Homo sapiens: one gene and its partners. The protein of the gene in region 2 purifies or fractionates together with the protein of the main gene of each other region. This does not show direct contact. Each region holds a gene or a part of one and is shown on either strand. Other genes may lie near its edges.

What was found.
Region 1: the proteins of PDE4DIP (region 2) and SERPINB4 purify together in Homo sapiens (affinity purification with mass spectrometry; 2 studies listed by BioGRID and IntAct, with this or other methods). This does not show direct contact.
Region 3: the proteins of PDE4DIP (region 2) and AKAP9 purify together in Homo sapiens (affinity purification with mass spectrometry; 3 studies listed by BioGRID and IntAct, with this or other methods). This does not show direct contact.
Region 4: the proteins of PDE4DIP (region 2) and PRKACB purify together in Homo sapiens (affinity purification with mass spectrometry; 6 studies listed by BioGRID and IntAct, with this or other methods). This does not show direct contact.

What each region holds. Positions count from the first base shown.
Region 1 is NC_000018.10:63,641,457-63,645,676, reverse strand, and holds the start of SERPINB4 (serpin B4), read left to right. Parts: upstream 1-1,420; 5' UTR 1,421-1,468; intron 1,469-2,054; exon of another isoform or gene 2,055-2,073; 5' UTR 2,074-2,099; coding exon 2,100-2,264; intron 2,265-2,459; coding exon 2,460-2,516; intron 2,517-3,788; coding exon 3,789-3,917; intron 3,918-4,220. UniProt on the Homo sapiens protein: May act as a protease inhibitor to modulate the host immune response against tumor cells.
Region 2 is NC_000001.11:148,847,428-148,850,927, forward strand, and holds part of PDE4DIP (myomegalin), read left to right. Parts: intron 1-3,500. UniProt on the Homo sapiens protein: Functions as an anchor sequestering components of the cAMP-dependent pathway to Golgi and/or centrosomes.
Region 3 is NC_000007.14:92,003,362-92,006,861, forward strand, and holds part of AKAP9 (A-kinase anchor protein 9), read left to right. Parts: intron 1-3,500. UniProt on the Homo sapiens protein: Scaffolding protein that assembles several protein kinases and phosphatases on the centrosome and Golgi apparatus. Required to maintain the integrity of the Golgi apparatus. Required for microtubule nucleation at the cis-side of the Golgi apparatus.
Region 4 is NC_000001.11:84,199,771-84,203,270, forward strand, and holds part of PRKACB (cAMP-dependent protein kinase catalytic subunit beta), read left to right. Parts: intron 1-2,912; coding exon 2,913-3,035; intron 3,036-3,500. UniProt on the Homo sapiens protein: Mediates cAMP-dependent signaling triggered by receptor binding to GPCRs.

The DNA of each region.
Region 1 (4,220 bases), on a different chromosome or scaffold from region 2:
TGTACAGTTGAATTTATGGTATATAAATTATATGTTAATAAAAAGGGGGTCCACAAAACAAACAGCCCCCCACTCTGGTTGTCAGGGAGATATTGGATTAAATGGCCTTGGACAACAACCCCTCTCCCTGGCCACAGACATTCTTCAGATTACAAGATATTCCAGGGGAAACACTGGAATGAGTCTGAAGCCAGGTGCTAAACAGAAGGACCATTGAGAAATGTTGTGATCCTGACAGGTCAAGCAATTTATTTTTCGGCTTCATTTTTAAATGTAAAATTAGAAAGCTGCCATTTAAAATGGCCCGTCTGTTTCAATTGCTCTTCTCAGTGTCAGCCTGTTAACTCAATGTGTTAGTCTGTTTTCATGCTGCTGATAAAAACATACCTGAGACTGGCAAGAAAAAGAGGTTTAATTGGGCTTAGAGTTCCACGTGATTGGGGAGGCCTCAGAATCACAGTAGGAGGCAAAAGTTATTCTTACATGGTGGCTGCAAGAGAAGATGAGGAAGAAGCAAAAGAAGAAACCCCTGATAAACCCATCGGATCTCCTGAGGCTTATTAACTATCATGAGAATAGCACAAGAAAGACCGGCCCCCATGATTCAATTACCTCTACCTGGGTCCCTCCAATAACATGTGGAAATTCTGGTAGATACAATTCAAGTTGAGATTTGGGTGGGAACACAGCCAAACCATATCACTCAGCAAGGCAGATAACTTTCTCACTGAGCCTATGCAACAGAAAACCATCTGGGATGGTTGTAAGGGGCACAGGAAGTGACTGGTAGGATCACTGCCAAAGCTGAGCACTCAGGAGAAGGCAATAGAATCCTATTCTCCATAGTATGCTATAAGATACTGAAGTACACTTCTTCACTATCTCTTTGGACTTAGAATTAGCACTACATTCCTTGTTATACAGAAAAATTACTAAGGAAATTCATAGGATGACAAAAACTTTCAGAACTGAAAAACAGGAAATGTAAGCTTTTTAGTTCTTTGGTATTCGAAGTATGCCTAAAAGACAATGCAAAATCCAAGAAAAGAATGGTGGGGTTTTTGTTTGTTTGTTTTTGTTTTTGTTTTACAGCTGGAGTAGAATACAAAGGGATGGAGTTGAAACAAATGAGAGGAAATTGGAATTCTAAACTTATTCTCATTGGCATTAGAAAGGCACCTACATGTATTTCACATGAGCCGGTGACTGCTGACTTGCATTCTTATTTTTTCCCTATAGATTAAAAAGGAGGTACAATGGTAGAACTGTAATCCTGTCCTTTGTCATAAATTTTCATATTCATAAAGGTGAGTGTTAGCCCGCTTGTGAAATCTGAAGTTGAGTAACTTCAAATACTAACCACAGAGGGAAAGGCAGCAAGAGGAGAGGCATAAATTTAGGATCTCACCCTTCATTCCACAGACACACACAGCCTCTCTGCCCACCTCTGCTTCCTCTAGGAACACAGGTAAGAGCTTCAAGCCTCTCCAGCTTAATAACATGAATTATTTTTGAGAATAATAATGATACTGTGTTCTATATCATGCATCTCCTGCATTCTGTCTGATTATATTTTACTTATTCTGCCAGAGCAAAATTAAAATACCTATTTCATCTGATTTGTCCTTTATCTAAATTGCTTAGTTCCAAGTAAACCAAGGCACTTTTAGGAACACAGAGGGAGAGTGCCTTGCAGCCAGAGAGTCTTGAAGGAGATGTCAGGGACGCATCTTAACAGCTGGTTGGATGTGATCCACAGAGGTCTCCTGTTAGCATTCATTGTAAAGCCATCCTACCTAGCTCTAGTGTAACCAGCAATGAAAGAAAGATAAAGAGGGTCGATTACTTATTTACAATAGTCTTTAAAAACGTAGTTTTGTAAGCCTTCTAATTAGGACATTAATATATTTAATATATGCACATTGTAGAAAGATTGAAGCGTTAAAAATAAGAGAAAAACTTTAAATGTCAAAATCTCACAACCCAGATATATCATTTCTTTAAGAAAATTGTACTACAAAATACCATTCCATTTATTAAAGTCATTCTGACAGGAATCTGATGCTTTTCCAGGAGTTCCAGATCACATCGAGTTCACCATGAATTCACTCAGTGAAGCCAACACCAAGTTCATGTTCGATCTGTTCCAACAGTTCAGAAAATCAAAAGAGAACAACATCTTCTATTCCCCTATCAGCATCACATCAGCATTAGGGATGGTCCTCTTAGGAGCCAAAGACAACACTGCACAACAAATTAGCAAGGTAGCTATCAGCATCATTACGTTGTCCTGTTGCAGTTTTTCTCTGGTTCCGTCGGCTAGCACGCAGATGGTAATAGATGTGGTGGTCTGATGGGTAGCACAGGGGGCTGTGCAGGAATTCCCATAACTGTGAGACCACTGACTTAAACAGATCTTTTGAGTAAAGTTTTCTTGTCCCGCTTCATGTCTCTTCCAGGTTCTTCACTTTGATCAAGTCACAGAGAACACCACAGAAAAAGCTGCAACATATCATGTGAGTCACAGAGCACTATGGTTCAGCTTTAGATCCCTGAACAGGTCATAGTTTAAACCTGGAACTTCACAAAAACTAAGAAAAGGCCAGTTTTAGGGAAAATCTTGGACACAAAGATTGAGACATACAGAGTGGGTTGGCATTTCATGGCACATAATTATTATTCCTCATTTCTGCGTTACTAAAAGACAGTCAGCACTGTACCTCAGAGCATAGGTCTGGATCAGGATAGGCTGGGTTCAGACTCCAGCTTTGCTCTTCACAAATGATGAATAAGAGCAGGACACAACTGCTCGGAGTCCCAGTGACCTCATCCCAGAAAACTAAGGGTAAGAAAAAATCTGACTCAATACATGCAAATACATGCAAATGTTTACAACAGTGCCTTGCCCATAAAAGTCATAATAAATGTTATTATTATTATAAAGTAGCTATAATTATACTAATCATAATAATGTGAAAATAATTTAATTTTCATTGAGTCATTAATGAGATTCAGAGGAATAAGCACAAGTCCAAGTATATTTTGGAAAATGATTGCTATGGAATATATTGGTTTAGAGCCTTAATAGTGCAAAATGCTTTGCTGGAAGGTAGAAAGTTCTAGATTTAAACAGGCTTAGGTTCAAAACTTGGCACTTCTAATTTATGTCTCTATAAACAGGGTTTTTTTCCCCATTCTCTGAGCTTTCTTGTGTTCATCTGAATTGAACTAAAGACTTAGAGTTACCCATGTAAAGTCCTTAGCCATGGACCTGGCATACACTCTTCTTACGTGCAGAGAATGACCATCATGAGGAAAGAGCCACAGATCAGTCAATGTGTCCTACAAGATAATAGCACCAACAGGTATAACAGGGCTTCCTGGCATAATCTATTTAAAATATCCAACCTTCAACATACTCGTATCCTTGATGACTGTTAGAAGTGAAATATGGTCCTTGCCCATAAGGAGCTGAGAGTTTAACTGGGAAGCTAAACCTAACCCTTTAAACCAACAAGGAGAAAATCTACTGGTAGACAGCGCTGCATCTTTAGTTCAGAAGAGAAAAGATTGCAGTACGTTAGAGCAAGAAGAATTTTCTGGAAGAAGTCAAATATAAGGTGGATTTTGAAGGGTATTTGAGGTGAAATACACCAATTATCAGGGAATAACATCAAAGGTCCTCAATGAGACTACCAGCATTTAGGGACTGATCTAACAGACTTAGCATGGGTTTAGTATTTACATTGATACAGCAATTGAATGATCTCCCTTTTTGATGTTTGAAGGTTGATAGGTCAGGAAATGTTCATCACCAGTTTCAAAAGCTTCTGACTGAATTCAACAAATCCACTGATGCATATGAGCTGAAGATCGCCAACAAGCTCTTCGGAGAAAAGACGTATCAATTTTTACAGGTAATTTCACCTGGCCTACCCACATTTCATTTGCATCCTGATGTCTGTGTCTCTGAGTGGCCAAATGGAAGAAAGCAAGGCAGATGAGCCTGGCCGACTCAGGTGGAGAGCATTTACTCAGAGTGCATTAGCTCCATTTCCACAACTCTCCCCCACTGGAGTGTCCCAGACCCCAACGATACATCACTGAAGTGTGGATTTAGGGATAATCTTGTGATAAAAGAGGAGGTTGTGTAATAGAGTGAGTAAGAGTAATAAGTAATAAGATACCATCGATAAACTGGCACTGACTCAGTCACATAC
Region 2 (3,500 bases):
TACAGGTCTTTTGATGAACATATGTACACATTTCTGTTGAGTAAATAAGTAGAAGTATGATTTCTGCGTAATAGGAAATGCATGTTCAGATTTAGTAAATACTGCCAGATTGTTTTTTTTTAAACAGATTACAAAAGAGATTTCTAAAGCGGGTATCCAGGCCAGGCGCGGTGGCTCACGCCTGTAATCCCAGCACTTTGGGAGGCCGAGGCGGGCGGATCACGGGGTCAGGAGATCGAGATAGTCCTGGCTAACACGGTGAAACCCCGTCTCTACTAAAAATACAAAAAATTAGCCCGGCGTGGTTGCAGGCACCTGTAGTCCCAGCTACTCGGGAGGCTGAGGCAGGAGAATGGCCTGAACCTGGGAGGCGGAGCTTGCAGTGAGCCGAGATCGCACCACTGCACTCCAGCCTGGGTGACAGAGCGAGCCTACATCTCAAAAAAAAAAAAAAAAAAAAAAAAAAAAAAAAAAAAAAAAAAAAAAAAGAGGGTATCCAAAGGGAAGAACATAGTGAAAAGGTGCTCCACATCACTAGTTATCAGGGAAATGCAAATTAGAACCACAACACCATGCTGCTATATACATATCAGAATGGCTGAAATTAAAAAGATAGAAAGTAGCAAATGCTGGCAAGGTGGACCATTCAGAATGTTCACATATTTTTTAACCACTACTCACAATAAGTAATATATTTACATTGCCACCAAGTACTCTTACATATGTAACAAAGTTTCTTGTAACAATACTTAACTTTACTATGTGTTTTGCACTCTGATATTTGCTATTCTATTCTTTTTCTTTAAAAATAAAATGTTGGCTCTGATTCACTGAATTTATTTCTCCACCTAATGGGTCACAGTTGGAAAAATCCTATAATCACAGATCATGGCTGACATCTCAGATCCTTCCTAACTCACAGATCAGATTAGTTCATAAACACTTATTAAAAATTTGAGGGCCGGATGAAATGGCTCACGCCTGTAGTCTCAACAGTTTGAGAGGCCAAGGCAGGTGGATGACTTGAGGTCAGAAGTTCGAGACCAGTCTGGCCAACGTGCTGAAACCCCATCTCTACTAAAAATACAAAAATTAGCCGGGTGTGGTGCCTGCACCTGTAGTCCCAGCTACTTAGGAGCCTGAGGCAGGAGAATCCCTTGAACCCGGGAGGCGGATGTTGCAGTGAGCTGAGATTATACCACTGCACTCCAGCCTGGGTGACACAGTGAGACTCTGTCTCAAAAATAAATAAATAAATAAATAAATTTTGAGAGCCCCAAACAGGTCAGACGCTGTGCTAGATGCTAAGAATAAAACAATGAATGCAATGAATGAGACTGGGTCTCTGCCTTTAATGGCTTTACATTGTCATCATCTATAATTTTAATAGAGAGACACTAAGGCAGAGATACGCAGTGGCTGCTCTGGGTACACAGTGGATAGGGGATTGAAAGAATAAAAATTAACCATAATTGATAACATTTATTAAGCTTTAATTGTGTGCTAATCTCTTTGAATACTTAATTCACCTAATCCTTACAACCCTATGAAGTAAATGTTATACTCATTTTTAAGAAAAGGAAATTGAGCTTCAGAAAGATTAAATAATTTTCCCAGAGTGACACACACAGCCGAGAAAGAAATATAGCCTTGAACTGTTTCATTCCAAAATCTATGCTTTTACTTTATTTTAGTAGAGTTTTGTAGGTGACTCAGTTTATGACTTGTTTCTGAAGCTAGCTACTTGCTCAATTTACCCACAAAGGACAAGGTGCTTGGTATTTTAGTTCTCAAAGTTAGATATGCTCTACTCCCAGCTACACATCATCTGCCCCTCTACAGCTCAATGGAAAGGTTCCCCCTACCCGCTGGGGCCGTTACCTGACTGTTGCCAAACTCACTGGTTAAATCATTTGGACAGAGCATGGTTGGCTCTGGAATAGCAAATTTTCTATGAATATACTGGCATTACAAAAAGCTGATTTGGTCACCAGCTTTCAGATTTATTTCCGTGAACAGGGCGAGAGTTGTCAAAAGAATAAGCTCATGGAGCTGATGAAGAACTTGATGATGAGGGGAGGTTTTCTCACCCGGCAGGTCCAGTGTCAACCAGGCAAACAGCTTCTACTGCTCTAAATTTTTAGCATCCACCTGTCTGGACTAGCAACTCCCTACACCTTCTGCTTTAAAGATTATCAGTACTTCAGGATTACTGTTTGTATTAATTTCCTGTTGCTGGTGTAACAAATCACCACAAACTTTTTTTTTTTTTTTTGAGATGGAGTCTCACTCTGTTGCCCAGGCTAGCGTGCAGTGGTGCAATCTTGGCTCACTGCAACCTCCGCCTCTCAGGTTCAAGGGATTCTCCTGCCTCAGCCTCCCAAGTAGCTGGGATTACAGGCACATGGCACCACACTCAGCTAATTTTTGTATTTTTAGTAGAGACGGGGTTTCACCATGTTGGCCTGGCTGGTCTCAAACTCCTGACCTCAAGTGATCCACCCGCCTTGGCCTCCCAAAGTGCTGGGATTACAGGTGTGAGCCACTGCGCCCAGCCAAATCACCACAAACTTAGTGGCTTAAAACAATACAAATGTATTGCCTTAAAGTTCTGGAGGTCAGAAGTCTGAAATTTGGTCTTCTAGGTTAAAACCAAGGTATCAGCAGGACTGTGCTCCTTCTAGAGGCTCTAAAGGAGAATTTGTTCCTTGCCCTTCATGGCTTCGAGAGACTGCCCACATTCTGGGTTCATAGCCCCTTCCAGCAATGCCATCACTGGCCTCTGCTTCTATCATCACATCTCCTTTGATCATTCTGACCCTCCAGTGTCCCTCTTACTAGGACCCTTATGATTACATTGGACCCAACCAGATAATCCAGGATAATCTCCTCATCTCAAAATCTTTAGTCACATCTGCAAAGCCCTCTCTTGCTATGGAAAGTGGCATATACACAGGATCTGGGGATTAGGAATGTGGACATTCTTATAAGGCCATTATTTTAGCCTACCACATCGTTCAATGCTGAAAAAGTCATTACTAATTATCTTCCCCATTTCAGTGGAAATGTTCTGGTTTCTAGCATATGAGAAAGCTGAGTAAACATCAGGTGAATCATATATGAACCTTATACAACTTCCCCGAACACATAACTCAAGAAAAGAGTGAACTAGAAATGTTTAAGGGCAAACTATAAGACTGAAGGTTAAAAAAGGAAAGCAAATTAGTCTGTTTTGTTTTGTTTTCTATTCCCCTGCAATTTGATTTAATAAAATGCAAGCATTAATTGCATTTGCTTGCTGTATCTGTGAAAATTTGGAAAATGGAAGTAACATTCAAGAAAATTAATGATCTGGTTTCAAAATTTAAGAATTTTGACTTTGTTTCTTTTCTGGAGTACAGCCTTCAAGCAAGACAAGGTGTCCATTTACCACAGCTATATTGTACTTAACAGATCTCCATTGATAGCTTATTTGAATTTGTTTTTCTCTATATAAATGT
Region 3 (3,500 bases), on a different chromosome or scaffold from region 2:
ATTTTAACTTGAGCCTATCATTTATTTATCATTTAAGTACTTTTTTTTTTAAACCATTGTTGCCTTTCTTTCAGTTAATCTATCTTGTATATTCTGCTCAGGAAATAAAACACTAATGGATTCAGATTTTCTTTGGAAAGACAAGAGTTTGTATAACTTTATGGAGAATCTCAGCATTAGAAAAGTTATTAATTTCATTTTGTAATTTTTGTTATAATCTCAAAGATTGGTTTCAGCGTTTTTATTTCATAGTGATGTTTTCAAGTCTCTACAACTGAAAATGAACTCCTAAGCTTTTTAATAGTCTCTATAGTTGTTAGGTGGTTATGAAATTATATTTTCCTGGGAGAAAAAAAAACCTTTGATTTAAGTCCTAGAGTTTTTTCAGAGTCTTTATTATACCTGAAGGGGAAAAAACAGTATTAACTCTAAATATAGTTAAAGAATTATATGTATATAATAATAGATCACTCCTGATAATTTATATTTGCCAGATACTGATATTAAAATAACAGGAAAATTCTGCTATCTACAATGTAATGGTGCTAACTAAAGTTTTATGTGTTTCTTCATTTTTCTAACATATTTATTGACTCTCTTGGCAAGTACGAATATAGTGGCCAACAAGAGAGAGGTTTCTGGTCTCAAAGAGCATATATTTTAGTGAGGGAGGCAGATGATAAATGAAACAAGTAGGATAGTGAGAAATAGTGATAAATTCTCTGAAGAAATAAAACAGGATAATGTGATAGGGAATGATGGAATTATTTCTGAGGGCTCTGTTCTGTTCCATTGGTCTATATCTCTGTTTTGGTACCAGTACCATGCTGTTTTGGTTACTGTAGCCTTGTAGTATAGTTTGAAGTCAGGTAGCGTGATGCCTCCAGCTTTGTTCTCTTGGCTTAGGATTGACTTGGCAATGTGGGCTCTTTTTTGGTTCCTTATGAACTTTAAAGTAGTTTTTTCCAATTCTGTGAAGAAAGTCATTTCTGTGAAGAAAGTCATTCCTGATGGGAATGGCATTGAATCTATAAATTACCTTGGGCAGTATGGCCATTTTCACAATATTGATTCTTCCTATCCATGAGCATGGAATGTTCTTCCATTTGTTTGTATCCTCTTTTATTTCGTTGAGCAGTCGTTTGTAGTTCTCCTTGAAGAGGCCCTTCATATCCCTTGTAAGTTGGATTCCTAGGTATTTTATTCTCATTGAAGCAATTGTGAATGGGAGTTCACTCATGATTTGGCTCTCTGTTCGTCTGTTGTTGGTGTATAAGAATGCTTGTGATTTTTGCACATTGATTTTGTATCCTGAGACTTTGCTGAAGTTGCTTATCAGCTTAAGGAGATTTTGGGCTGAGACGATGGGGTTTTCTAGATATACAATCACGTCATCTGCAAACAGGGACAATTTGACTTCCTCTTTTCCTAATTGAATACCCTTTATTTCTTTCTCCTGCCTGATTTCCCTGGCCAGAACTTCCAACACTATGTTGAATAGGAGTGGTGAGAGAGGGCATCCCTGTCTTGTGCCAGTTTTCAAAGGGAATGCTTCCGGTTTTTGTCCATTCAGTATGATATTGGCTGTGGGTTTGTCATAAATAGCTCTTACTATTTTGAGATATGCCCCATCAGTACCTAATTTATTGAGAGTTTTTAGCATGAAGTGCTGTTGAATTTTGTCCAAGGCCTTTTCTGCATCTATTGAGATAATCATGTGGTTTTTGTCTTTGGTTCTGTTTATATGCTGGATTACACTTACTGATTTGCGTATGTTGAACCAGCCTTGCATCCCAGGGATGAAGCCCACTTGATCATGGTGGATGAGCTTTCTGATGTGCTGCTGCATTTGGTTTGCCAGTATTTTATTGAGGATTTTTGCATCGATGTTCATCAGGATATTGGGAATGTTGGAGAGGGTAGTAACAACATTAAATATGGTGGTCAGGAAACATCTCTAGGAGGAATTGACATTTGAGCTGAAATCTGAATGACATTGAAATTAGAGCAATTGTAAAGACACGGGTAAGTTTAAAGAACAGAATGAAGGCTTGTGTAGTTGAGTTTGAGAGAGCGGGAGAGTGGAAGAAGAGTTTGAAGGAGGAAGAGACCAGACCTTGGAGAATCTTGCAGACTTTGGAAGCCATTGGAAAGTTTTCTCTTTTTATTCCTAAATATATCATATTTATGATCTTATATCAAATGTCGAGATATTTTATATTTATGATTTATATCAAATGTAGAGATATTTTATATATTTACTTGCCTAAATAGAGTCAAGAAATTCGAATTGCTTAACGATTTTTTTGTTTGTTTGTTTTTGAGACCGAGTCTCACTCTGTCACCCGGGCTGGAGTGCAGTGGCGTGATCTCAGCTCACTACAACCTCCGCCTCCCGGGTTCAATCAATTCTCCTGCCTCAGCCTCCTGAGTAGCTGGGATTACAGGCATGCACCACCACCACGCCTGGGTAATTTTTGTATTTTTAGTAGAGACAAGGTTTCACCATGTTGGCCAGTTTGGTCTCAAACTCCTGACCTTAGGTGATCCAACAGCCTCGGCCTCCCAAAGTGCTGGGATTACAGGCGTGAGCCACCATGCCTGGCCAAATTGCTTAACTGTTAATGTTCTGTTAAATGTCTGGAATTGTTTTCAAAACCAAAATGTATGGCAGTTACTTGTGAAAATGTCACACATCTTTTAAAATTTTTTAGGAAGCATTTTTGGGAGAAGACCTGAATTTGACCCTCAGATGGTCAAATTTTCTTATTAGGAATTCTAATTTTCTTTTTCTTTTTCTTTTTTTTTTGAGACAGGCTCTCACTGCCGTCCAGGCTAGAGTCTCATGGCGCAATCACAGCATCCTGCAGCCTTGACCTCCTGGACTCAGGTGATCCTCTCACCTCAGCCTCCTGAGTAGCTAGTATTACAGGCATGCACCACACACCCAGCTAGGTTTTTGTATTTTTTGTAGAGACAGGGATTTGCCATGTTGCCCAGGCTGGTCTCAAACTTCTGGGCTTAAATGATCTTCTTGCCTTGGCCTCCTGAAATGCTGGGATTACAGGCATGAGTCTTTGTCACCAGCCAGAATTCTATTTTCTGTACTAAAGAGATACTAAAAAGATACTTTTGATGGCATTCAGATTCCCTCTATTTGACATTGACTACATAAAGTAAAGCCTGTAAACTTCCTGCCCGTTCATCATTACCAAGACAAACCTTTATTGATGGGAAGGGAAGTTCACAGAAGAAATCGAGCAGTGACTTACACAATAGTAACACCTAAGAGCAGCCTAAATATGCTTGAAATAATGTGGATGCCACACAGATATCTCTAATACACTTAGGTAGTTTGGGCAGAAGGAGAAAAATAAAAACATCATAGAAGTCTTTTCAGTGTTGGGATGCAAGGAAGAAGGAAGAGTGGCAGGAATTTTTTAGATACTGATTAATTATTGATGCTGGGAGAGGTCATAGATTGAAGTGTATGTGTTTAA
Region 4 (3,500 bases), about 65 Mb from region 2:
AGTGTCTAAGTGTTCACTTTTCTCTGCAACCTTGCCAGCATCTGTTATTTTTTGACTATTTGTTTATTTATTTATTTATTTATTTATTTTCTGGAGATGGAGTCTTGCTCTGTCGCCCAGGCTGCAGTGCAGTGGCGTGATCTCGGTTCACTACAACCTCTGCCTCCTGAGTTCAAGCGATTCTCGTGCTTCAGGCTCCCAAGTAGCTGGGACTACCGGCATGCACTACAACACCTGGTTAATTTTTGTATTTTTTAGTAGAGACAGGGTTTCACCATATTGGTCAGGCTGGTCTTGAACTCCCGACCTCAAGTGGTGCACCCTCCTTGGCCTCTCAAAGTGCTGGGATTACAGGGGTGAGCCACTATGCCCTTCCATTTTTTTACTTTTTAGTAATAGCCATTCTGACTGGTGTGGAATGGTATCTCATTGTGGTTTTGACTTGCTTGCATTTCTCTAATGATCGGTGATATTGAGCATTTTTTCATATCTTTGTTGGCCGCATGTATGTCTTGTTTTAGAAAGTGTCAGTTCATGTCCTTTGCCCACCTTTTCATGGGGTTGTTTGTTTCTTGTAAATTTGTTTAAGTTCCTCATAGATGCTGGATATTAGACCTTTGGCAGATGCATATGGTTTGCAAATATTTTCTCCCATTCTGTAGGTTGTCTGTTTACCGTTGATAGTTTCTTTTGCTGTGCAGAATCTCTTCAGTTTAATTAGATCCCACTTGACAGTGTTTGCTTTTGTTGGAATTGCTTTTGGTGTCTTTGTCATGAAACCTTTGTCCATTCTTATGTCCAGGGTGGCATTGCCTAGGTTGTCTTTCAAGGTTTTTATACTCCGGGGTTTTGCATTTAGGTCTTTAATCCATTTTGAGTTGATTTTTGTATATGGTATAAGGAAGGGATCTATCTTCAGTCTTTTGCATGTGGCTAGCCAGTTATCCCAGCACCATTTATTGAGTAGGGAAACTTTTCCCCATTGCTTGGTTTTGTCAGCTTTGTCAAAGATCGGGTGGTCGTAGGTGTATGGACTTATTTCTGGGTTGTCATAGTTGAAATCATAGTAAATATATATAGTCTTGTCTCTGACTTTTTTCACTTTTATAATAACAAGCATGCAAACATCATTCTAATGGCTTGTTTGTAAATGTACCATAAAATATGTAGCCACTCTTCTATCGTTGAGTGTTCAGGTTTTATTTTTGATTTTTTTATTATTATAAATAACTATGATAAACATCCTTATACATAAAAGTTTTTTCCTTATTTTACATTATTTCCTTAGCATATATTCCCAGAAGTAGAATTACTGGGTCAAGGAATAGGAACATTTTTAAGGCTTTTGATACATATTGCCAAATTGCTTTCCAAAGTTATTATGCCATTTTACACTTCTACCATTAGTGTATTATAGTGCCTATTTCATAACACTATCACTGGGTATACTCATTTTTAAAATATTTACTGATTTCATAGGCAATAAATTGTATCTCATTGTTTTAATTCTCATGTTTTTTATTTATTTTTCAAATGGTTAATAGCCATTTGGTATTTCTTTATGTGTCTGTAAATTATTAGTTCATTTCCTTGGCCCATTTATCTATTGTAATTTAACATTTTTCTTATTGATGTGTTTTGATTTCTATACCTTGGGTATTAACTTGTGTCTGACATATTTACTATAAACATTAGCACACAATTTAAACATATGAATCAAAAAGTTAAAGAGAGTTAATGCCTATTTCTATTAAAAAACAAAGTGCTATTCCTGTTATACCACTCCTTCCCTTAAAAAGATATACACAGTATCAGGAAAAAAAAGAGAAAAAGAAAATCTCTATAGCGCTAAAGTATTATATTTTTGCTAGAATTTTGAAAACTAAGTAGTTTGTAAAGCTAAAATTTTGACAAAAGGGTGGAATGTGGTGAGTCGTGATGGTAGAGGGTACCTCTGAGGGCAGAGCAATAGATCTGGGTAGAATTCAGCTTATTTCTCTTCATGACAGGTTTTTGGGGTTGTTAAAAAATCTCTTGTGTCAGTTGATACTGACCATAGTTAATAAACTATATTAGCATGTTAATATGAAGATGTTATTCTTATTTATTTTCTTATGAATACTTACAAATTTTAATTTTAGTAAGCTTAATATGAAAAAAACAAACATAACCTGTGATTTTTACATTTGGTTTGCAAAGCACTTTTTACACACGTTACTCCCTTTCATTTGATACAGTCCTCACAAAACTCTGTGAATTCATTTTTTTCCTGCATATCTTTTAGATATAGGAAGCAAGACAGTAGATAGCAGAAGTAAAGTATACCTAAATATTTACATGAATTGAATTTTACATTAAACTTTTTGCTTTCACAAAATCCTATGAAGCAGATGGGATTATCCCTAGCACATTCACCCTCCTAACTCCAAAAATATAGAGTATTTTGAAGTCAACTTCATTATTTACTATGTAGTCCAGTTTCTATTATTTTCTTTGAAAACTTTTGATCTTTCTAGGCATGCTGTGGAAAATCTGTTTCATAAGATTATGGACCTAGAGTGGGCCTTAAGAAGTAATGTGGTCTAACTGCCTTCCTGTTATTGAGCAAGAACTAAATTATACCAGTGAAATAAAGAAAATTTCATTGTCTATAATATTCTTAATAATTTTAGGAAGAAGATTTAATACTCTTTCCTAATATCCAATTTCAGTATCTGGAAATCCTCTCCTTTGTTTAATTTAAATCTGACCTGATACATTTGGTTCATTTTTAAATTCTGTCCTGAATAGCTGCTCAGCAATTGCTTTAAAAAAATTTTTATATGCTTCCAGATCATTTTGAAATTATCTTTGACTTCATTCTCTTTTGAGTAACTTAAGTAACAATTGACATTGGTGTTGGTTTATCTCAGGGCTACAATAAGGCAGTGGATTGGTGGGCATTAGGAGTGCTAATCTATGAAATGGCAGCTGGCTATCCCCCATTCTTTGCAGACCAACCAATTCAGATTTATGAAAAGATTGTTTCTGGAAAGGTAAGTAAAACATTTTATTATTCCTCTCTTATTACTGTATATGAATTTTAAGCTTCATGAATTGAAACTATATTGTGTCATAATTATTATTCTACATTGGGAAAAATATAGAAAAATCTACAGTTGCTGCTCTTACTATCATAAGAATTGAATCATTTCAGTCTCTTAAGAAAAAAAGGGCAGTTTTATAAAGAAATTAACAAAACAGTAAAGCAATTTCTGTATTTAGTATTTTTATCACAAAGAACAGGATCATAGCCATAATTCTCGATATTCCTTCAAATAAATAAAAATAGTTTATTATTTCATGTGTCTATCTTCATGGAGAAAAGTTTTAGGGGCTGTTTTATATGCCCTTCCATTTTCAGGAGAGACTTCTTGTTTTAATTATGTCCAATACTATAACATTGGAAGTAAAAGTAAATATAAAATGAATAAGCCTTTTTCAGATGGAAATTTATAGAA